Regions from separate parts of the Homo sapiens genome. Here all the other regions are linked to region 3. Evidence: fine-mapped expression QTL. A gene starts in region 3. Each other region holds a variant in brackets. All regions are shown on one strand. Distances are between the middles of the regions.

Region 1 (8,276 bases), 740 kb after region 3:
GGCCTGTCTAGCCCAGTTTTAGCAAGAACTCTGCTAGGTTAGCCTACTGAGGATCCCCCAACCCCTTGACATCTGTCAGTCCAGTTGGGCTTCTATAAAAAAGTACCATAAACTAATTCTTAGCAACAGAAATTTATTGCTCACAGTTGTAGAGGCTGGGAAGTTGAAGATCAAGGTGCTAGAAGATTCCATATCTCGTGAGATCTCTCTTCATTAAAAAATGACACCTTCTAGTTGTGTCCTCATGTGATGGAAGAGGCAAGGCAGCTCTCTGGGGTCCCTTTTATAAGGACACTAATCCCATTCCTTCATGACCTAATTCATCTCCCCAAAGTCCTCATCGCTTAATACCATCACCTTGGCGGTTAGCGTTTCAACATACGAGTTTTGGCCTCCACAAACATTCGGATGATAGCACTATCTGATCATCCTGGCCTGCCTTCGGTAAGAACCCTGGTAAGTTGTTTTAGCAAGAATCTCCCTACCCTTGTCTCCTCTTGGTAATTTTTCATCCACTCACTCTGTTCCTTGGCTCTAAATCCCCAGCTGTCTTTGTTATATTTGCCTAATTTCTCTCCTCCATTGCAATAATCTTGAATAATGTCTTCCTTACCATTTTAACAAGTGTCAGAGTAATTTTATTTTTAACAAGTGTTACCATGGCAGGTAAATCTCAGTCTGCCCCAAAGTAGCTTTGGGTCTAATAGGTAGACAGGTAGGCAGATCCATGATTGACTCTATGGAAGAGGAACACGTATTCATGAATTCAACAAACATGTACTGAGGGCCTGTAATATGCCAGGCACTGAGGATACAGCTTTGGACAAGATACTCCAGCTCCTTGCTCTCATGAATCTCACAGTCTGATGAGAGAGATAGATGATAAACATAAACAGAAACAGAAAAAGTAAAAAGGGGGCAGGTGTCATTCCTGGGATTGTAGAGGGAATAGGGGTCCCGCATAAACAGGAGACACCTTCTGCAGGAGAAGACATATGAGTTGAATCTCCAGTGAATTTAACTCTTGCTTGTGGGCTACAAGATTCGACAGGTTCAGAGCTCATCTAAGCATGTTTGTGAATAAGTACGATGTTGGATGACTCAGGAGCCAGCCTATGATTTGCCGATTGTGAGTAGGAAGACAGCTGAGGTTTCTAGAGGCAGCCCAGCTGAGAGGAGACACAGACAGGGAGATTATCCTAATAGGATTTCACAAAGACCACTTAGCAGTCGCTGAGCTCCAGGGAAAAACAGTTATGAGCTGAGGGTGGGGAAATAGTCAAGAATCTGGCAACTCCGCAGAAGCTCGGAGAGAAAAGCTGACAGCCGACAGACAGAACAAGATGATGCTTGCAAAAAGGTTAAAAGAATAGACAAGAGAGAAAAAATGTACGCTGAGAGATATGGATGGAAATGGAAGTGCATTAATATAACTTGGGGATATGGATTAAGATAATTCTAGCTCTAAGGAGCAGAGCTAGGACTTACTCATTACAGTACTTCACACTGTCAGGAAACTCTTGGAAACAGATGTGGGCAGTGGAAGGTCAGGATTTGGATGGAAAGAAAGAATGTGTGAATAGGCAGAAACAGGATAGCTAGTTCTAACCCCTACTCTTTAGAGAAAAAGAAAGTGAGGTTCAGATAAATAAAATGACTTTTTCAGAGTCATGCAACATAGTGAGTGCTAGAGCTAAGAGATTAGAACCTTGTACATTGCCGATGGGAATGCCAAATGGTGCAGCTAATGTGGAAAACAGTTGGCAATTTCTCAAAATTTAAACATCAAGTGACTATGTGACCCAACAATTCTGTTTGTTGGGCATGTAGCCCCAGAAATTGAAGGCATGTACTCAGATTTGATTCATGGTAGGTTTTCTGGCTAGTCCAGTGCCCCTTTTTACTGCACCCCAGCTGTTGCTTCCATCTTCCATTTTCTCTCCCTTTTTTCTCCTCCTTTTTCCCTCCCAACATCCTATCTTCATCCCTCTTCTTTCCTCTTTATACATGTAGGGTCAGGTTGGGGTCTAAGCTATAGCTTTGCCACTTAATAAATACGTGAACTTGGTTTTTATTGTCCTGTCATTGACGATGACTAGATGAGGGTCCTCCAGCCCTAATAGTATATGCATTTTTACATACTGTGCCGTCACATGTTCAGGAACTGCAGCGGATCTAGTATTGATGAGAGGACAGTACCTGGGAGGTTGCCCAGAAGACAACCCTGGGGGAACCTGGGGGTGTTGTCGAGAAGCTGATACACTCCCGGTCTTGAACAACTGTCATGTTTTCTCACCCTTTAATTGCTTGTTTCGTAGAGCTTAAATTCTCTTTAATTTTCCTGGGATTACAAAGCAGTGATCTATTTATGTTTCCTGGAGCATCTCTTCTTCCAGGGTGAGTTTTAAAAAAAAATCTTTGCGTGTGAAACCTACTGTGGGGGACACACAATCTTCCTTTAAGTCTTGTACTTTTCCCCCTCTACTTGACCACTATATCAGTGGGGGCAGTTACCTGATGGTGTTATTTGATCCAAATTGGTAATGCTGAATTTGCCTTTGCTATTTTCCCAATTTACTTGGTTACAGTTTGACTGCTCTCTTATGGGAGAGGAAATTGCTGAGGACTTGCAAAAAGCCTCTGGGGGCTTTGTCTCTAATCTGTCTCTAAATTTATTGAAATTCTGACACTAGATTTAGGTCTATTGAATTGTCAGTTGATCCTCTTCCTGGGGTGGGTGGTCCCCTAAAGCTTCAGTTTGCTCACCTGTTTCAAAATGAGTCAGCTGCTTTAATGAGAGGTCCTTCTGTTTCATGGACTTTTGTCGTTTGTTTTTCTAAACCCATTCATTTTCTTGTCTTTGCCCATTTGAGTCCTCATATGAGATAACTGGTTTCTGCCTGATAATTCCCAGAATGGCTCTGGGAAGGGATTTAGGGAAGGAGTCAATCCAAAATGGGAAAAACGAGCTCCAAGTGGAATATTCACACCTTTCCAATTTGTTCTCTTCAAATTAGGAGCTATATCATTCAGCTTTTCTGTCCATTACACATTTTTTTTTTCCTTGCCAACAGTACTTTTCCATCTTGAAAGGGAGGATGGGCTGGGTTCGATGGCTCATGCCTGTAATACCAGCACTTTGGGAGGCTGAGGTGGTCAGATTGCTTGAGGT[C/T]AAGAGTTCTAGACAAGCCTGGCCAACATGGCGAAACCATGTCTCTACTAAAAATACAAAAATCAGCTGGGTGTGGTGGCGCACTCCTGTGATCCCAGCTACTTGGGAGGCTGAGGCATGAGAATCCCTTGAACCCAGGAGGTGGAGGTTGCAGTGAGCCGAGATTGTACCACAGCACTCCAGCCTGGGTGGAGTGAGACTCTGTCTCCAAAAAAAAAAAAAAAAAAAAAAGCATGAACATAGATTACTCTTCTTTCATTTTGGCCCAGGTGGCACTTAAAACCTATAGCATGAGGTTGGGGCAGTTTCTGAGTTTCAGAATTAATAATATTTTTGTTGTTCATTTTAATTCATTTTGTTCATTTCAGTCAACTTTGAAGATGGAGGTTCTGTGAAATGGTGTGCAAACCACCATATTTTCTGGAATACCTGGCATTCTTTCCACTATACCATGCTGTGTGATTATAAATACACTCTTTCATAGCCAGTATGACATGCTCTTATTGGAAAAGGTTTCCAATGACTGTATTCACTGAAATGGCCTATTTATATATCAAGTGTGTGATTGGATATGTGCTTCCCTAAGACTAAAACAACAACAAACAAAAGGCCCAGATCCTGGGTTACCCAACGATGCTGCCAGGTCTCCCCTAGTTCCCTGCTCCCAAATGTTCATGTAAAGTTGCCACAGGAGGTCTCAGTAGTGAGCGCCTTCAAACTGGGCAATGGGATTAGGTTTTTAGAAGATGATTTCCTTGTTTTCATTTCGAGATCTTAATTTTATTGAAGATGCTTCTGCTGTTGGTGGTGCTGGTATAACTGATCTAATTTAATTTAATTTGCTTCTTTGCAAAGAAGGCAATCCCTTGCCCAGCTGCTGCTCTGGGCAGAGAGGAAGCAAGCAGGCTTGGAGATAAGCCATGAACTTTATCAGACCTCTCCAAGCTTTATGCTAATGAGCAATGCTTAGAGATTTCAGAATTTTTTCCCCCAGTGATTGCTTTAGCTACTGTACTGTTTCCTAGGCAGTAAGACATCATCATGAGTCTCTATAGGTGAGGGAGATGTGATCATCTGACTGGTCTGTTACTCTGCTTCAAGGTACCATGCCTGTGGTGGGTGCAAGGCACATGTCAGGTGGTGTTAGGAAGAGTTTCCCCCACCCATTCTGTCACAGTGTGCCTAGGGAAGCTTCCTGTGAGAATTCTGAGTGATAGCAGGTGTGGTAAGTTAAACAGTCCTTGATTAAACTCTGGTTGTACCTCCCTAGTTTCTTTCCTTTGTCAAGGTGTTCAAACTTGCTATGTCTTGGCCTCCTTAAACCATGCGTGAATAGGATGTGTGCTTCAAGGATAGAGTTCCTTATTCCTGTCTCTATTTTCAGTACCTAGTAAGGTGCCTGCCAGACAGTAGGCTTGGTAAGTATTTGCCAAATGAACGAATGAATGAACAAATAAAAGGAAACAAATGGGTACGTATGGAAAGGAAGATGGAATGTCACCATTACATCCTACTCTCCAGACAGAAACACTCTGGGTATAAGGAGATCCAGAGTCATGTTGTGACGAGGTATTGTGAGCCGTAATGGTACTGCAGGTCTCCCCAGTTCTACTCCAATGATTTGATTTGGTGGGTTGGAAAGGATTTGTTGACACAGATCTAGACATATATGTGATTTGATAATGGGTGGTACAGAATTAGCCCATTTTCCATCTGGTCCTGCCCAGATTTGCTCAGCCACGGGGTTAGTCTATTCAGATCCAGCTCAACTTTGCTGTATTTTAGGAGCCCATCTCTCAAGATAGTAGTGATTAAAGTCAGCCTGCTGGCGCAATCCTGGCATGCAGTCATTCTGAGGAAAACGTATACAAGGTTGTGATGGTTAATTCTGAGTGTTAAATTGATTGGTCTAAGGGATGCTCAGATATCTGGTAAAACATTAATTTTGGGTGTGCCTGTGAGGGTGTTTCTAGATGAGATTAGCATTTGAATCAGAAGACTTAGTAAAGAAGTCTACCAATGTGGGCAAGCTTAATCCAATCGTTCGAGCACCAGAATAGAACAAAAGGGCAGAGGAGTTCATTTTTTCTCTCTTTTCTTGAGCTAGGACTCTTCTCCTATGCATGGGCATTGGAGCTTCTGGTTGTTGGGCTATCAGACTTCCAGACTTACACCTTCTCATCCTGGGTTCTCAGGACTTTGGCCTCAGACTGAGAGTTATACCATCAGCCATCACCTCTTCTAGTTCTCAGGCTTTAGGACTTGAACTAAATTATACCACTGGCTTTCCTGATTCTCCAGCTTGCAGACAGCATACTGGGGGACTTCCTGGCCTCCATAATTGCATGAGCCAATTTCCATAAGTCTCCTCTTATATATCTTTATATATTCTGTCGGTTCTATTTCTCTGGAGAACCTTAACTAATACAAAGTTCTTCATATGAGGCTTCTGCTTAGTTTTCTTGATTAAGATGGTGATTCCTGAATGAGACCAAAATACTCAGGGCCAAGCCACATGAGCTAAAAGGCACTGACAATGCTGAGTTAATGTAGATATATCAGACCAAAGGGTGCCTGAGATTTAGCTTCTTTGCTCTTATCCTGAAATGCAGCAAAGCTGTTGCTTCATCATCTAGCTTCTGACTCTCAGCATCCCCATCTCCTGATGCCTTCACTTGAACATCTTTGCTGGGCAGCTCCACCACCATCTTTGACTCCTCAAGTATGCTAGCAACCTGGGTGGAACCTGCATTTGTCATATTCTCTTGGCCACTCTGAGTGAACTTGTGTTCACTCTCTAGGGAGGTCTAGGTTTCCCAGTGGGTTTCTGCAGCCCCACCTACCTCTCAGTCTGTTCTCTTCTGCACCCAAGCACTGTAAAATTAGTACAAGCCTCACTAACTAGAAGGCATGTTGATAGGTCAGATGAGAGGGTTTGTGAAATAGAGGAGGTATCTAGGCTGGGCTTGGTGGGGAACAGAATCCATGAATGAAGGCTGTATCTCTAGGATGAGCCAGTGGAGAAAAATCCTCAAACTGATGGAAAAGAAAAAATACTCTGGCTCTGAAAATCAAAGGACATAGCCCTCTGAACAAGTGTGATTAGTATTCTAAAAAAATATATGAAGGAGGCATCAAAGAAGAACCCATTGGCATTAGCAAGAGGTTTTAGGGACCAGATACGAAATAAATTTCTAAAAAAAAATTAGCAGGTTTTTTCTATGTGCAGTTTTTAAATTGTAATATATAGAGCAAAGAAAAACCCAATCATAACAGGACAGAATATCTTTTAAAGCTTGGGATGAAGATAAAAAAAATGCAGGAACAACATGAAAACTTTAACACAGAGGCACATAAAAGAAGACTTGAATACTTGGAAAAATATCATGTTTCTGAATGGAAACGTGTATTCATATAAATATGTCAATTCTCCCCCAAAGTGATTACATATTTATGTTTTTAAAACTTGACAAAAATGATTGTAAAGTTTGGATAGAAGATGAAATGCATAAGAATGGCAAAAGGGACATTTTGTCCCTTAATAGAAGGGAGATTTGCACAGCAAAAAGTTACAGAGAGTTATAAAATAACTTAATACTATAAGCAATTTAGTGGCTAGTGAAATAAAATGTAATTGAAACAGAATACAAAATAAGATAATGAAAATGATTTGTGTCTATGTAAATACTTACTATGTGATAATGGTAGACTTAAATCGTTTTGGGAAATAATAGATTATATAATTAATGCTGTTAGGAAAATCAGCTTTTTAGAGGGAAAGGCAGATCATTATCTCAGTCCGTACATAAGCATAGATTGCAAACTATGGTGTACAGGCCAAATCTGGTTTGCTGCTTGTTTTGTAAATTAAATGTATTGAAACATAGCCACACCCATTCATTTACGTATTGCTTGCGGCTGCTGTTGCACCACCATGGCAGAACTGAGTAGTTGCAAAAGAGACGATATGGTTGCAAAGCCAAAAGTATTTACTATCTAGCTCTTTACGAAAAATATTTGCTGACCCCTGCTTTGACACATGGAGAGCAGGAACTTGAGCTGAAGCAATAGCAAATAAACAGGAAACATCTTATTCTCTATGGTTGGGGTGACATATTTATTTTTGTTTCAATAGGGACATTTTTGAGAGTAAAAGGAATACCCCAGGTAGGCAGGGAGGTATTATAATTATAGATGCCTATAATGGATCAAGAATTGGATTGGAAAGGGAGAAATGCAAGACAGTGATGATTAGAGTTGAGTAAGATTAGAGTTAATAAAGTTAAGAATAATAGAAATCAGCGTTGTTAAAAGCACAGTCTTTTAACAGCAGAAAGGAGCCTTGTGAGTCTTCATGGATCTTTAGATACTTTTGATAGAAAGTAGTAACTCAGTTATTCTCAGTGTCACACCAGGCAGAATGCTATTTATTATGCAACATAAAAGCAGAGGCAAAAACTCAAGTACTTCTTGAGCTGTGCAGGGAACAGAATAGATGTAAGACAAGAACAAAATGTTCAACTCTAATGAGAGGATAAGAACATTAGAAGACTAGTATCTTGGATGTTTGAAACAGTGGAGAATGGCCAACAGGAAGGAACAGCTGTAATTAAGTGCAGATCTAAAGAAGTGGCAGAAAAACTGTGCCTTGCAAGTTTGACTTAGCAACGAGCCAGCTACCAAGAGCCCTAATGAGGACCAAAGATGGAAGATGTCTGTGGGGAGTGAGACCCGGGTAATCAGCTTGTTTTTTCCCATCTGTGAGTTTTCCATCTGATGAGAAGAAAGGGCGTCAGGAGGTAGACTGGTCCAAGGGCTGCTCTTTGAAGACACCTGATCTCAAATCACTACCATGGTCAGGAGGGGATGCTCCAAAGTGAGCTCCAGGAAAATAGCTTTGCAGATAAGCCCATGGGCCTCTAAGCACCTTCCCTGTTGCTTGGAGAAAAAGGACCAGGCCTGGCCATGGGTTAAACCAGCAGCTGGCCTCACAAAGGAATGTGTAAGTGCCACTGCCTTTGGGGTTGACACTGCAGTGCAGTGGGTGTATAGCAACTGAACAAAAAGGACTGACTGCCTACCACTGGGGGATGCCAAAAGACTC
Region 2 (8,276 bases), 34 kb after region 3:
CCAACCAGGATGGTTAGTCACTCTGATACCAGTCCTGCTCATTCCCTATACATTTTGTCTACTTTATATTTTACTTTGTAGCACTGATGCCTTATCACGTATTTATTAGTTTTTATTTTCTATCTCCAACTAGAACATCAGCTCCAGGAGGGCAAATACTTCCTGTTCAACTATTGAATCCTCAGCACTGAGCACAGGGCCTGGAATATAGTAGATGCCCAGTACAATTTGACTAATGAATCAATAAATGAATTGATAAATGTTGGTACATATATAAAGTGGAAAATTACACAACCAAAAACTATATAAAACCTATATAAACCAAAACAGGAACATACATGTGATACAATATCAAGCAAAAAACCAAGTTTCAAAATAGTAGGTGTTGTAGGGGTACCAATTTTGTAAAAGAAAAACAAAAGACATGTCTGCACGTACACATTTGTGAGCACAGCTGCCAAAAAAAGACTGCAGGGTCATGACCCAAGGTCACAGCGGGTTCTTAGGTTAGGTTATTTTAACTTTTTTTTTTTTTTTTTGAGATGGAGTCTCGCTCTGTCGCCCAGGCTGGAGTGCAGTGGCGCAATCTCTGCTCACTGCAACCTCCGCCTCCTGGGTTCAAGCAATTCTCCTGTCTCAGCCTCCCAAATAGCTGGGATTACGGGCATGTGTCACGACGCTCGGCTAATTTTTGTATTTTTAGTCGAGACGAGGTTCCACCATGTTGGCTAGGCTGGTCTCAAACTCCTGACCTCAGGTGATCCGCCTGCCTCGGCCTCCCAAAGTGTTAGGATTACGGGTGTGAGCCACTGTACCCGGCCGGTTATTTTAACTTTTATCTTTGTACTATTGTGTAAAGCTTCTCAAGATATTGCTGTTGAGTTAATATTCAAGTACTGAGTTCCTGGTGGGAACCTGGCATGCCCATGGCCCATCACACCCTCCCCCATCACCTTGACTGTGACCCCCATGCCTAAGCAGCCCTCAGTTCCTAAGGCTTTCTTCTCTCTCGCACCACGGTGTTCTAATTTTCTGGCCAGAAGCTGGACATCAATATATTCTCCTAACTCTTCAGACTCCGCAAACTCCCACTCAAGCCCCTCCATGAGTCCTCAAGCCTGTCCCTTTCCTAACTTGCCACAGCCCAGACTTGCCTCCCTCTGTCCCACTGTTACATGGACCTGCTTACAGCTCCCTGGCCCTGCCAAATGGGGTGTGGGGGTGGGACAGTGTCACACAGTTCTCTCTCCTTGGAACATTCCCCAACAAACCTGGTCTTTCCAGCTCACCTTTTCACCTGTTCTCATTGCCTTTCCTGGAAGCCAGATGACCCTCCGATCCCATGCACCCTCTCCTGCTGCTGTCCCTGTCTTCACTGTAACTTGTTCATTTACACGCCTGCCCAGTTCAAGTGCCAACTTGATCTTATTTTGTTCCCACAACCCCACGGGTTAGGAACTATCATCGTCCCTGTTTCAAGGAGGAGAAAACTGAGGCAAGGACAGGGAAGTGACATGATCAAGACAGTTAATAAATGACATAACCAGGATTTGAACCCAGGCCATCTGACTGCAAAGCCCACGGCCTGGAATTTCAGGAAGACAATAGAAAGCTAGAAAAGGAAAAAATGAAGTCAGTGGGAAGGAAGTGAGGATGTAAGTTGGTTAGTTAAGGAGGAAGAAAATTAGGCAGCTGAGAAAGCAGATAGTTGGGAGGGAAGGAAGGAAAGGAAGGAGGGAGAAGGGAAAGAAGTCGCCAAGGAAGAAAGGAAGGAAAGAAAGTAAACAGGTACTAGGAAAGATGTTAGCTAGGTAACTAGTCAATCTGGAGACCAATAGGCGAGCAGGCAGGTATCCTGCTCACAGGTGAGCCTCTCACCTGAAAACTCCAGGTTCCTGCTCAGGTCCTGGGGAGCAGCCCCATGCACGGCTCTGCCCTCTTCTCTCTCTTCATGGTCCTTCTGACTGGAGGCACAATCCTGACTTGTCAAGCAACCTTCCCAGTCAGGAATGACCTGTCACCCACTCGCTCCTGGCTCCCAAACCGGCTCAAGTTCAACCTCCCAGCCCTGCCTGCTGGAAGCTGGCTTCGGGGCCTTCCAGTTACTAATTAACCACTGGACCTGAATTACCAAGCTGGCTGCACACACTGGCTCCTGGATGGGCCCTGCCTGGGGGACTCTCTGAATTTTTTAAAGCACAACTTGTTATGTGACCATGGGCAACTGACTTCAGCTCCCTGAGCCTCATGTGAATTGGTGACGGATGGTGTGTCCTGCTGGAGGGACGGTTTCTGAAGTCCCTTTCAACACTGGAACTGCCGCACTCTCTCAAGGTCCAGCTTAAGTGCTGACTCCTACACAGCCTTCCCTGATTCCCTCCGCTGAGTCATCTTCCCTTTCGCTTGGAACCTAGTGAACCAGCAACTGAAAGGTTGGTCTCACACAACACCCTCCTCCACCCCTTCCCTAATGGGGGCCACCAGCCCCTATGTTCAGTCATTTCATGGAAACTTCCAGGACTGGGCAGCTCATTTCCCCCTGAGCCAGCCTCTGGCAATTTCTTGTGTTAAGCCGAAGACTGCCACCCACAGCCTACCCGACCAAGCACTGCCCTGGCACCGTTCTGGGAGAATCACAGCTGAGTTGAAACCTATGCCCCACTCTGCCCTTCAGAGATTTGAGGCTCAGGAACCAGAGATGAGTTCACCCTGGAGAACAGGGAAGGCTTTCTCGGGGGTTGACCCAAAGCTTCCCAGGCCCTGGGTTCTTTTTTTTTTTTCTTTGAGACAGAGTCTCGCTCTGTCACCCAGGCTGGAGTGCAGTGGCGTGATCTCAGCTCACTGCAAGCTCCGCCTCCCAGGTTCACGCCATTCTCCGGCCTCAACCTCCCGAGTAGCTGGGACTACAGGCGCCCACCACCACGCCCAGCTAATTTTTGTATTTTTAGTAGAGATGGGGTTTCACTGCATTAGCCAGGACGGTATCGATCTCCTGACCTTGTGATCTGCCCGCCTCGGCCTCCCAAAGTGCTGGGATTACAGGCGTGAGCCACCGCGCCTGGCCGGCCCTGGGTTCTAACTCAGGGCACAGGCAGGGCCTGGACCCCTGGACAGGTAAGGAAAGCTCTGCCCAGTGACCCCTCCTGAGCAGGCTGACTTTCACACTGCTTCCTCCATTGCCTTTCCATTAAAATGTCAACAACTTTCTGGTAATTCTGGTGCCTTAAACACCGGCTGCTCTGCTGTGCTCCGGAGGAGCCCTGCATGGCCACACACCCCACCTCCACCAACACACATAGCAGCATGTGTCTGGCCCTGGTCCAGATAGGGGAGGTAGCTGGCCCAAGTGCACAGAGCAAATCAGGGCAGCGCACAAGGTCCTGCCCTTTCCAGAGCTCCTGCTGCTGCTGCTGCTGTGCCACCAAGCTCCCTCTCCTCTGCTCTTCCAGAGCTGCTTAAAAAACCCCCAAACACGCCACATACTGGTATTGGTTGCATAAAGTGTATCAAATAATTCCAACTTACAGAAGAATGTCAAATAAAAAGTAAAAGCTTTCCCTCCAGCCCATCTTCAATCTCATTTCCAGAGGCAGCTGCTGTTAACTAAAGGGTGACAATCCGGCTGGGCGCCATGGCTAATGCCTGTAATCCCAGCACTTTGGGAGGCTGAGGTGGGTGGATCACGAGGTCAGGAGATCGAGACCATCCTGGCTAACATGGTGAAACCCCATCTCTACTAAAAATACAAAAAGTTAGCCAGGCGTGGTGGCGAGTGCCTGTAGTCCCAGCTACTCGGGAGGCTGAGGCAGGAGAATGGCATGAACCTGGGAGATGCAGCTTTCAGTGAGCCAAGATCATGCCACTGCACTCCAGCCTGGGCAGCAGAGCAAGACTCCATCTCAAAAAAAAAAAAAAAAGGGTGACAATCCTTCCAGATTTTTGTCTATGTCTTAATCTATATGTATATTAATCTTAATCTATATGTATTAATCTATATAACTGCATCCATTTTTTTTCCAGAAAATGGGCCATCAGTAATTCACTTTTTTTCATATATACATCTTTTAAGCAGCTGCACCACACTTCATAGTGTGGAGTTTTCACAACCCCTATTCCCTATTTACTGTTCCTTCTGATGGAC[A/G]TTTTGACTGTTAGCAGTTTCACAATATTTCCAACAAGGCTGCAGCAAACATCTCTGCTTTAATATCCTGTGGCCTTCCGCTAGTATTTCTGACAGATGAACTCCTGTTAAGTGTGAGTGCTGGGTTAATTATGAACTCTCTACCAAATGACTGTAACAAGTTGTGCCAACCAACGTGGCTAGCAGCAGTGCTGAACTTGCCCTTCCCCCCAGTGATACTGCAGGAAATAGCCAAGGTCACTCGTGCAGATATGTGTAGATAGGCCACTGCAGATATGCGTCTCCTTCCCATCTTCCTCTCTTCCTTCTTTCCCCTCCCACCCTCCCTGGCTGGACTTTGTTGTTTGGGTATGAAGGTAAAAGTCATGTTCTCAGGCATAAGGGAAAAGCAAGAGACTTAACCAATGGAAATCTACCTCCAGAAATATTCCCTTCACTTTGACATTCCTCAGCCCACTTTTCTGTCCTTAGTCTGGCTCCAGCCCTATTCCCACCCCCAGCCCCACCTGCAGATTCACCCATAGGCAAAGGGAATAACAGACACAGGGCCACCAGAGAAAAATCTATTACCCACATGGGCTAACAGACTCTTGGGCAACAGAGCTCATACATAGCCCAGATATGGGCCCCAGTTTGCCTTCTGGAAACATTTTTAGAAAGTGATAATTGTACAAAGTGTAAAATCAAATAATGAAAAAGATCAGTTCCTTGCCCCATTCCTCATCTTTTTAAGCTGCTTTCTTTGGTATTTACCTCCATGTATCTTAATAGCCTTATACTGTTATTCTTCCATTTTTCAGTTTAAAACATTTTCAAGTGGCTTCTTTCCTACTATGGAACATGAATGCTTAGATTATGCCCCTCCAAACACACATTTCAGCTTTTCCTGAATTTATAGTTGCTTCATTTGGTTTTAGAAATTGAACATATTCAATATATATAATTATTAGAGAATTATATATAATTATGTGTATATAACTCTCTGATAAAGCTAAAATATCCTCTTGATACATTAATATACCAGTTTCAGTTTGTTTTCTTCCCCCCATTTTTCTTAGAGCCGTTCATCCTCCTACTCTCACCTAGACAGCTGTCCAGAGGTGAACCTGGCCCTTCCTTTCCCATCACTCTGGAAACCCGTCCCCACCTCTGCCTTTTTTTTTTTCATTTGAAGTAAGAGTCTCTCTGTCGCCCAGGCTGGAGTGCACAATCTCGGCTCACTGCAGCCTCCCACTCCCAGGTTCAAGCAATTCTTCTGCCTCAGCCTCCCAAGTAGCTAGGATTACGGCACGCACCACCACACTCAGCTACTTTTTTGTATTTTTAGTAGAGACGGGTTTTGCAATGTTGGCCAGGCTGGTCTCAAACTCCTGGCCTCAAGAGATCCACCTGCCTCAGCCTCCCAAAGTGCTGGGATTACAGGCGTGAGCCACCGGTGACTGGCCTGCAAATCCCCTTTGTCTCTTTCCTTGGTGTGTCTTGCTTCCTGGATCCTATGTCTTCCTCTTTTAAAGGGAAATTTATTGTGGTAAATATAAAATTTGCCATTGTAACCATTTTTTGAGTGTGCAATTCAGTGTCATTAAGTATATTCATGATGTTGTATAAACATCATCATTATCTATTTAATTAATAAAAAATCTGTTTTTATCACCCCAAAGAGAAACTCTGTAATTATTAAGCAATGACTCCACATTTCCCCTTCCTCACAGTCCCTGGTAACCTCTAATCTGCTTTCCATCTCTATGAATTTGCCTATTTTGGATATTTCATATGTGTGGAATATTTGTTCTTTCGTGTCTGTTTTTCATTTTTTTGAGACGGAGTCTTGCACTGTCGCTTAGGCTGGAGTGCAGTGGTGCGATCTCGGCTCACTGCACCCTCCCCCTCCCGGGTTCAAGTGATTTTCCTGCCTCAGCCTCCTAAGTAGCTGGGATTACAGGCGCCTGCCACCACTCCCAACTAATTTTTTGTATTTTTAGTAGAGACAGGGTTTCACTATGTTGGCCAGGCTGGTCTCAAACTCCTGACCTCATGATCCGCCCACCTCGGCCTCCCAAAGTGCTGGGATTACAGGCATGAGCCACCGCGCCCGGCCTCATTTATTTCACTTAGCATGTTTTCAAGGTTCATCCAGTTGTAGCAAGTATCAGAACTTTATTCTTTTTTGACTGAATTAAGATTCCACTGAATGGATAGACCACATTTTGTTTTCTGTTGATGATGACATGGGTTGTTTGCATCTTTCGGCTGCTGTGAATAATGCTGCAATGAGCATAGGCATTCAAGTATGTTTTCAAATCTTTTGGGTATATACCAGGAGTGGAATTGCTGAATCATGTGATAGTTCTATGCTTAGCTTTTGAAGGAACTGCCAAACTCTTTTTTTCAGCCTACATCACGCTTTGAATGCCAAACTCTCTTCCATAGCAGCTGCACCATTTTATGTCTCCACTAGCAATGTACAGGGGTTCCAATTTCTCCACAGCCTCACCGTTTTACTTTCCTTTTTAAAAAAATTATAACCATCATAATGGGTAGAAAGTGATATCTCATTGTGGCTTTAATTTGCATTTCCCTAATGTCTAATGATGTTGAGCAACTCTTCATGGGCTCACTGGCCATTTGTATGTATTTTTTTGGAGAAATATCTATTTAAGTTGTTTGCCCATCTTTTAACTGGGCTTTTTGTTGCTTAGTTTTAGGAGTTCTTTATATATTCCACATGTTAAACCCTTGTAAAATTTGCAAATGTTTTCTTCCATCCTGTAGGTGCTTTTCACTTTTTTGATAATGTCCTTTGATGCACAAAAGTCTTTAAATTTTTATGAAATTCAATTTTTTTTTTTTTTGAGACAGAGTCTTGCACCGCTGCCCAGGCTGGAATGCAGTGGCGAGATCTCGGCTCACTGCAACCTCCGCCTCCCGGGTTCAAGCGATTCTCCTGCCTCAGCCTCCCGAGTAGCTGGGACTACAGGCGTGTGCCACCACGCCCAGCTAATTTCTGTATTTTTAGTACAGACGGGGTTTCACAATGTTGGCCAGGATGGTCTCGATCTCTTGACTTATGATCTGCCCACCTCGGCCTCCCAAAGTGCTGGGATTACAAGCATGAGCCACCGTGCCCAGCCATGAAGTTCAATTTATCTATTTTCTCTTTTGTTGCTTATGCTTTTGGTGCCATAGCTAAGAATTCATTGCCAATTCCAAGGTCATGAAGATATACCTTTATGTTTTCTTCTTAGGGTTTTATAGTTTTAGTTCTTATATTTAGGTCATCAATCCATTTTGAGTTAATTCTTGAATATGGGGTGAGGTAGGTATCCAATTTCATTCTTTTACAAGTATAAATCCAGTTACCCCAGACCCATTTGTTGAAGAAACTGTACTTTCCCCATTTAATGGACTTGGCATTCTTACTGAAAATCAATTGGTTAGGCCGGGCGTGGTGGCTCACGCCTGTAATCCCAGCACTTTGGGAGGCCAAGGCGGGTGGGTCACGAGGTCAGGAGATCGAGACCATCCTGGCTAACACGGTGAAACCTCGCCTCTATTAAAAATACAAAAAATTAGCCGGGCATGGTGGCGGGCACCTGTAGTCCCAGCTACTCAAGAGGCTGAGGCAGGAGAATGGCGTGAACCCGGGAGGCGGAGCTTGCAGTGAGCCAAGATCGCGCCACTGCACTCCAGCCTGGGCAACAGGGCGAGACTCTGTCTCAAAAAAAAAAAAAAAAAAATTTCAATTGGTTATGGACATATGGACTTGTTTTTAGACTCTGAATTCCATCCTATTGGTCTATTTGTCCTTATGCCAGTAACACACTGTTTTGATTATTGTGGCTTTGCATTCCAGCCTGGGCAACGAGAGCAAAACTCTGTAAAAAAAAAAAAGAAAAAGAAAAAGAAAAGAAAGAAAGAAAGAAATCGGTTTGTTCTTCAACTTTGTTATACTTTATTAAGATTGTTTGGGCTATCTGAGGCCTCATGCAATTCCATAGGAATTTAAGGATCTGTCTTTCCATTTCTGCAAGAAAAAAATAATCAGCTGAGATTTTGATAGGGATTGCATTGAATATGTAAATATCTTTGGGTAATATTGACATCTTAACAATATTAAGTCTTCCTAGCCATGAAC
Region 3 (8,000 bases):
CAGGTGTGAGCCACCACGCCAGACCTAATTCTGAATAATCTTTAAATTGAGCTTCTCCCACCTAAACAATCTATGTTACCTAAGAAAATAAAGACTTCTCAGCTTTATCAGCAGGACAATATCATTTAGAAGGGAAAACAATATACATGGTCAGTCACCTCTGAATCTTCCAATTACTCCGAAGTTTTTTCTGCATGGATTTGTAGCCATTGTTGGTGGTAAATATCTCCTTTTTGTAGGCATTGAAAAGAATGGTGCTCCGCAGCTCTTTCTCCATGGTTACCTTATGGAAGAAAGATGGGATCAGAAAATCAATAAACAATATTCCAAAGACCCTAAAAGTAATAAATAGTTGCCTTCTACTACTAATTTATCAAGAAAGGGTATACAACTGAAACCTATCTAGGAAACTCCTACAATTCTCAAAGGTTGAGAGTGAAATGCAAAAGCATAGCACAGAAACCTAAGACCAAAACCAACCCAGCCCTCCCCTACCCGCTTTTGCTTTCTGCCTCTTGCCCAGATCCTCCCAACAGCCTACACCTATGGCTCTGCCCTGCCATCACCCTGCTCTTGTGTCCCAAGACCATGTTTCCATCCTGATTCATTACTGCTAACTACTGTTAAGCGCAGGGTATAGTCTTCTAGATTCTATTTTTCTTTTTTTTGAGACGGAGTCTTGCTCTGTCTCCCAGGTTGGAGTGCAATGGTGTGATCTTGGCTCACTGCAACCTCCATCTCCCGGGTTCAAGCGATTCTCCTGCCTCAGCCTCCTGAGTTGCCAGGATTACAGGCACGTGTCACCATGCCCAGCTAATTTTTGTATTTTCAGTAGAGACGGGGTTTCACCATGTTGGTCAGGCTGGTCTCAAACTCCTGACCTCATGATCCACCTGCCTTGGCCTCCCAAAGTGCTGGGATTACAGGTGTGAGCCACTGCACCCAGCTCGAGATTCTTTTTATACATATATTAACTTACAGTTTTATTTTATGAAATAGGATCTTACCATATGCATTATTCTGAAACACCTGTTTCACCTAACCTTGTATATTTGACATCTTTCTTTGTCAGTACACATGGATCTACCATATTCTTTTAAACAGCTACACAGGGCTGGGTGCAGTGGCTCACGCCTGTAACTCCAGCACTTTGAGAGGCTGAGGTGGGAGGATCGCTTGAGCTCAGCAGTTCCAGACCAGCCTGGATAACATGATAAAACCACATCTCTACAAAAAAAATTAGCAGGGCATGGTGGCACATATCTGTAGTCCCAGCTATTCGGGAGGCTGAGGTGAAAGGATTGCTTGAGCCCAAGAGGTTAAGGCTGCAGTGAGCCACAATCACGCCACTCTGCACTCCAGCCTGGAGAACACAGCAAGACCCTGTCTTTAAACAACAACAACAACAAAAACAGCTACACAGTATTCATTTTATGGATCTACCATAATTTATTTAACCAGTCATCTACTGGCTGACATCTTTTATCAAATATTTTCTAAAACAATACTAAAAACATCAATGTTAAACAACATGTTTTTCTGCAATTTGCATATTTGTAGAGATTCTTATCTATTGAATGGCTGAGTAAATCATTTCCAAATTGCCCTCCAAAAAGTTATACTCATTTATATTTCCACTAACACCCTTCTGTTTCCACACAATCCTATTTCCAGTCTTTGTCATGTTTGCCAATAAAGGGCCAAAAAACCCCCCTCATTACTGTTTTAATTTCCACTTTGAAGTTAGTGAGATAGTTGTCTCTTGCTATAGATTTTTGCCACTTGTATTTCTTCTGATTTTCTTGTCCAGGTACTCTTGATCATTTTTCTCTTTAAATTTTTCTTTTTAAAAACTTCTTCTTATTATTATTATTTGAGATAAAAGTCCCACTCTGTGACCCAGGCTGGGAGTGCAGTGCTGCAATCACAACTCACTGTAGCCTTGACCTCCCAGGCTCAAGCAATCATCCCACTTCAACCTCATGGGTAGCTGGGACTACAGGCGCGCACCAGTGTCCAGCTAATTTTTAAATTTTTTGTAGAAGCAAGGTCTCGCTATGTTGCCCTTGAACTCCTGACCTCAAGTGATCCTCCTACCTCAACCTCCCAAAGTGCTGGTTTACTGGCATGAGCCACTGCACCCAGTCGGGTTTCATAATTTTCTAATTGATCATTAAACAAACATTTTCATAAGTTTATTTGGCTTCTGGTAGTTTTTTTGGTTTGGTTGAATTTTGCAGGCCATATAGATTTTAAATTTTATAGAGTTAAAAGTATGAATCTTTTCCTTCCTGGCTTCTGGATGACATGAAACACTTAGAAGAGTTTTTTGTCATTCTAAGATTATAAATAAATTCAACAATGCTTTACTTCAGTACTTCATGATGTAATTTTTTTTTTTTTTTGAGAGAGTCTGCTCTGTGGCCTAAGCTGGAGTGCAGTGGCACGATCTCGGCTCACCACAACCTCTGCCTCCCAGATTCAAGAGATTCTCGTGCCTCAGCCTCCCAAGCGGCTGGGACTACAGGCGCCCAAACACACCCGGCTAATTCGTGATGTAATTTTTTAACATTTAAATTTTAGTCCATTTGGAAATTATTGTGGTGCTCAAAATGGGCTTCATTCCTTTTTTTTTTCCTTCTTTTTCAAAGCATAGTCTTGCTCTGTCACCCAGGCTGGAGTGCAGTGGTGCAATCTCGGCTCGCTGCAACCTCCGCCTCCCAAGTTCAAGCAATTCTCCTGCCTCAGCCTCCCCAGTAGCTGGGATTACAGGCGCGCGCCATAGTAGAGACGGTGTTTCACCAGGTTGGCCAGGCTGGTCTGGAACTCCTGACCTCAAGTGATCCACCCGCTTTGGCCTCCCAAAGTGCTGGGATTACAGGTGTGAGCCACCTCGCTCGACTGGTTTAATTATTTTCTAAATTGCTAAAAAAGCTGCCTGACCCCAATTCATCTCTTCAATGCTGATTTGAAATACAGTACCACCTCGCCTATATAATAAATCCCTATATATAAATCGCTCTTATTCTGAGTTCTAATATATTTTATCTACCTGTAAGCTCCTGCTGAGTCCCAAACTTTTTAAATTAATTTATTTATTTTCAGAGACAGGGTTTCCTTTTGATACCCATGCTGGTCTCTGACTCCTGGGCTCAAGGGATCCTGCCGCCTCAGCCTACCAAGTAGCCAGGACTACGGGCCCACACTGCTGCACCCATCTTCTATGCTAGTTTAATTGCTATACCTTTATGTTATAATATCTGGTGGTTCTGGAGAGCTAATCTCCCTTATTAGCATTAATTTTAGAATTTTCCTGGCTACTTTCACATATTTATCCTTCTTTAAGCACTTTAACATCATTTTGTCCAGTTGAAAAACTGCCCCCTCCATGGTCCCACCACCGTGATACATCTATCTTTTTTTGTTCTGTTAGTTCAGCCCCTGGTGAGAGTAGCAGGTCTGCGTTCCTGTACTGTCAGACTTAGCCAGAAATGCATTTCCTTAATAATAGTATAAGGCCTTTAAAACTATAAAAATAACAAATATTTGGGTAACGCTGCCAAACCATTCTCTCGCTTTCTCTTCAATAACATTACCAGTCAAATCAGTATTTTCCCACATGAATACCGAGGGGTCGCAGCCACGACAGAAGAGAGATTAAGACTGTACGATTCCTCGTCCCATGCTCTTTCATAGTCAGCGGAACGACTAAACACCTGCACCACCCGAGGCCGTGGAGATGGGCGCCCAGCCGGGGCGCCAGGAACCCGGGCTACGTCCGCGCCCACAGTTTACTTCACCCCGGGGGACCCTGGATGTTCTATGACCGGCCCAGCGGCCTCGAAGAGTGCGGCGAGTCCCTCGCCAGCTCCCAGGCCGCACCAACGCCCCAGCCGGCCCACCACTGTTGGCGCCCTTTACCTGAGGCCCAGCGACCACCGCTCACCTGACGCCGCCCAGCATCCCGCGGCCAGGTATCCAAGGCCGCTTAGTAACCGGAGAGGCGCGTCGGTGCGCCGGGAGGCGTGGCCCAGGACGCAGCGCTAGCTCCGGCCGACGTGATGACGACAGCACGGAAGGCGCCTCTCCGTCGCAGGCGTCAGGGGTAGGCAGCCTGACTGATGTGGGGCTGTACCATTTGGTGCATGAGGGGCAAATCCAAACATAAGGAGAATTAACTTTTCACCAAAAATAAACCCATTTAATTTTGTTCTTTAGTATCAATTACGAGTAAAGACTAATAACAACGGTAGGACCCAAGTGCCCAAACTTCGCTCCACCCACAGGGAGGAGAATAGTGAAGGCTTCCAGCGCGGGGGGGTTGGAGAACGCCCCAGCTTCGATTCCCAAAGCGCAGGAGCAGAGTGGAGCCAGGCGAGGGCGGGGCCGGGCGGAAGGCTGTGCTGGACTATTAGGAACTACTTAACGGAAAAGGGTGCGCAGGTTTAGTGTTGAGAATGATAAACCGTATAATTCTGTTTTATTAACTCCGCATCTTTGCTTGCCATGGTACTAGGCTTGAGCGCCGGCGAGCATGGCGGGGAGTTAGAACTTGAATAGATTCTACAAAAATGTGAAAACTATGAACTGTATTAGGGAGTCTAACGACTAAGCTGGTCAAAAAGGCGCCCCTGTTGAGCAGAGATTTGAAGAGAGAGTGGTATTCATTAAGGCAAAGGCTGGGGAAGGGCGTTCCCGGCAGAAAGAACTGCTTGTGCAAAAGCACCACCAATACAGGTTGCCCTGCCATCGCCATTAAGATGGGAAACCAGAAGCCTGCAACTACCAACAGGCCACCCGACTACCCAGGAAAGCGCTCTGTGCCTGCCTTTAGAGGTGTGTGGATTTGTGAACAACGCTGCAGCAGCCTGGAAGACCCAAACTGAAGATTGCAGAGAGCTCTGACAGTTTTTATTTACATTTATGTTTGTCTTCGAATCTAGGATATTAAAACACATACAACTCGTGTTGCTTTCCACAATTTCTGTCACTGGAAATTTTAAAAGTGGAGACGGGCCGGGCGCAGCGGCTCTCTCCTGTAATCCCAGCACTTTGGGAGGCCGAGGCAGGTGGATCTCTTTAGCCCAGGAGTTTGAGGCCAGCCTAGGCAACATGGCGAAACCCGGTATCTACTAAAAATAGGAAAAATTACCTGGGCGTGGTGGCGCGCGCCTGTAGTCCCAGCTGCTTGGGAGACTGAGGTGGGAGGATTGATTGATTGATCCTAGGAGGTTGAGGCTGCAGTGAGCCGTCATGGTGCCGCCGCACTCTAGCCTAGGCAACACAGTGAGACCTTGTCTCAAAAAGAAAGTGGAGAACAGGGTGATTTGAGAATTCTCTTTGGTCAGATGAAGTGGCTTCTGCCTGTAATCCCAGCATTTTGGGAGGCCAAGGTGGGAGGACTGCTTGAGGCCAGGAGTCTGGGACCTGGGTAACAGTAACACCTTTTCTCTCCAATAATAATAGTAATAATAAATAAAAAAAGAAAATTAGCCAGGCATGGTGGCACACACCTGTAGTCTTAGCTACTTGGGAGGCTGAGGTGGGAAGATCGCTGGAACCCAGGAGTTCGGGCTGCAGTGAGCCATGATCGCTCCACTGCACCCCAGCCTGGGCAACAGAGTGAGACTCTGTCTCTTAAAAAAAAAAAGTTCTCTTCTTGGGGATGCTGTATTTTGGTGCAGAATTGGGTGAATACAGTTTGCAGTTAGGGTAATAATGGAAATGAAGTATTCTCACTGAAGAGAGAGTAGGCCGTCCCATTTGAAGGCTGGGACAAATCTTGGGATCTTTCTGCCTGATATGCAGTCAGTGTTTGCTACAGCACCTGCCCAGAGCATTTCTCCCACTGTTAGAGATTGCAGAAAGAGTAAGAGTTTTGGCCGGGTGCAGTGGCCCACGCCTGTAATCCCAGCACTTTGGGAGGCCAAGGCAGGTGGATCACTTGAGGTCAAGAGCTCGAGACCAGCCTGACCAACATGGTGAAACCCCGTCTCTATAAAAAATAAAATAAAAATAAAAATACAAAAAATTAGCCGGGTGTGGTGGCGGCCGCCTGTAATCCCAGCTGCTTGGGAGACTGAGGCAGGAGAATCACTCGAACCCAGGAGGCAGAGGTTGCAGTGAGCTGAGATTGCGCCATTGCACTCCAGCCTGGGCAACAAGAGCATAACTCCGTCCCCGCTTCCCCCCCCAAAAAAGCAAGAGTAAGACTTTTAGAATCAGTAGTTGTCACCAAGTTCAATTCCTCGCTGTGACTTGTACCAGCTGGGTGACCTTGGGCAGTTTTCATAATCTCTGAGCAAATGTATCCTATCTGTAAAGCGAAGTTAATAATTTCTTTCTTTCTTTCTTTTTTTGCCGAAACTGAGTCTTGCTCTGTTGCCCAGGCTGGAGTGCAATGGCATGATCTCCGCTCACTGCAACCTTCGCTTCCTGGGTTCAAGCAATTCTCCTGCCTCAGTCTCTCAGGTAGCTGGGATTACAGGCACCCGCCACCATGCCCGGCTAATTTTTGTATTCTTAGTAAAAACGGGGTTTCACCATTTTGGCTAGGCTGGTCTTGAACTCTTGACCTCGTGAATTGCCTGCCTTGGCCTCCCAGAGTGCTGGGATTACAGGCGTGAGCCACTGCGCCCAGTCTGAAGTTCATAATTTCTAAATGCTGGCTTATAGTGAGGATTGTAGATAATGCATATAAAACTTGGAATGTGCTCAATAAACATAGGTTGTAGCATGTTCCATTCAACAGCATAGTTTTTCATTTTTATTTTTTATCCTGATGAAAATAATTGTGCTTTTACAATCTCAGAACAGATAGAACCATTATATGTTTCACCGTCCACAGCTGATTGTGTGCTTCTGACACTACTATTACGTTTCTGATCATTATACTCCTGTTTTTTTGCTTTGGGAAGTTAGGGGGATTTTGACCTCTCCCTCATCTTGTCCCAAATTTGTCAATTATCTGGCACTATTAAGATGGAAATCAGTGTGTATCTTTCAGCGTTCTTAGCACATGTGAAAGCTTAACATGAACTCTTCCTGACCCAGTTTTGATCTCTAATAGCTCAGTGTCATTGGTGTTTTTTCTGTGGTCTCCCAGACTTCTTCCCCGTGATTCCTGGGGCAGGAGGCTGGGTGAACAAGACTTGAGGAAGGGAAAGAGTGGGATTGAATTAAGAGGAAAAGGCAATAAAATCACCAGCACACACTGATCCAAGAAAGTTCCTTCCCTTGTCTCCCAACCAAAAAAGCTAATAAGGCCACCCAGGAGTATGAACCACACATTTGTAAAAAAACAAACCACTTTTCGTATTTATTTATTTATTAATAAGACAGTCACACTCTGTCGCCCAGGCTGGAGTGCAGTGGCACGATCTTGGCTCACTGCAACCTCTGCCTCCCGGGTTCAAGTGATTCTCGTGTCTCAGCCTCCCGAGTAGCTGGGACTACAAGCATGCACCACCACACTCAGCTAAATTTTTGTATTTTTAGTAGGGACAGGGTTTCACCATACCGGCCGGGCTGGTCTACAAACTCCTGACCTCGGCCTCCCAAAGTGCTGGGATTACAGGTGTGAGCCAGCACGCCCAGCCGAAACGAACCACTTTTCCACTGAAGTAAGGAAGCACAATCCATCCCACAAGTGCAGGGTGTTCTGAATTTATGAGGTGTTACCGCTCACGTTCTGTCCGATCAGAATTATCTTTAGAAATGACTAATCTTGGCTGGGTGCGGTGGCTCACGCCTGTAATCCCAGCACTTTGGGAGGCCGAGGTGGGCGGATCATCTGAGGTCGGGAGTTGGAGACCAGCCTCACCAACATGGAGAAACCCTGTCTCTACTAAAAATACAAAATTAGCCAGGCCTGGTGGCGCATTCCTGTAATCCCAGCTACTCAGGAGGCTGAGGCAGGAGAGTTGCTTGAACCTGGGAGGCGAAGGTTGCGGTGAGTCGAGATCGTGCCACTGCACTCCAGCCTGGGCAACAAGAGCAAA

Alleles and levels. Positions count from the first base shown, and alleles are read on the strand shown. Sizes are in standard deviations (SD) of each study's normalised expression. Not every link is listed here.
With allele T in place of C in region 1, the expression in nucleus accumbens of the gene that starts at base 4,039 in region 3 is higher (large effect, 0.85 SD a copy in GTEx).

The links.
Region 1: its variant is fine-mapped to the expression of IFT52 in nucleus accumbens (GTEx, PIP 0.94).
Region 2: its variant is fine-mapped to the expression of IFT52 in whole blood (TOPMed, PIP 0.95).

What each region holds. Positions count from the first base shown.
Region 1 is chr20:42,850,557-42,858,832 of GRCh38, reverse strand. The region is part of intron 2 of PTPRT (protein tyrosine phosphatase receptor type T); the gene reads left to right. Among named protein-coding and RNA genes, the nearest start is that of PTPRT-AS1, 110 kb to the left of the region's middle. The variant C/T (reference allele first, on the strand shown) is at 3,173.
Region 2 is chr20:43,552,762-43,561,037 of GRCh38, reverse strand. SGK2 (serum/glucocorticoid regulated kinase 2) reads right to left here and starts at 2,011. Exons shown (of 13, transcript NM_170693.3): 1 at 1,879-2,011. The variant A/G (reference allele first, on the strand shown) is at 4,142.
Region 3 is chr20:43,586,976-43,594,975 of GRCh38, reverse strand. It overlaps IFT52 (intraflagellar transport 52), which reads right to left and starts at 4,039. Exons shown (of 14, transcript NM_016004.5): 1 at 3,922-4,039; 2 at 159-283. The coding sequence starts at 277. RefSeq lists an enhancer at 3,848-3,917.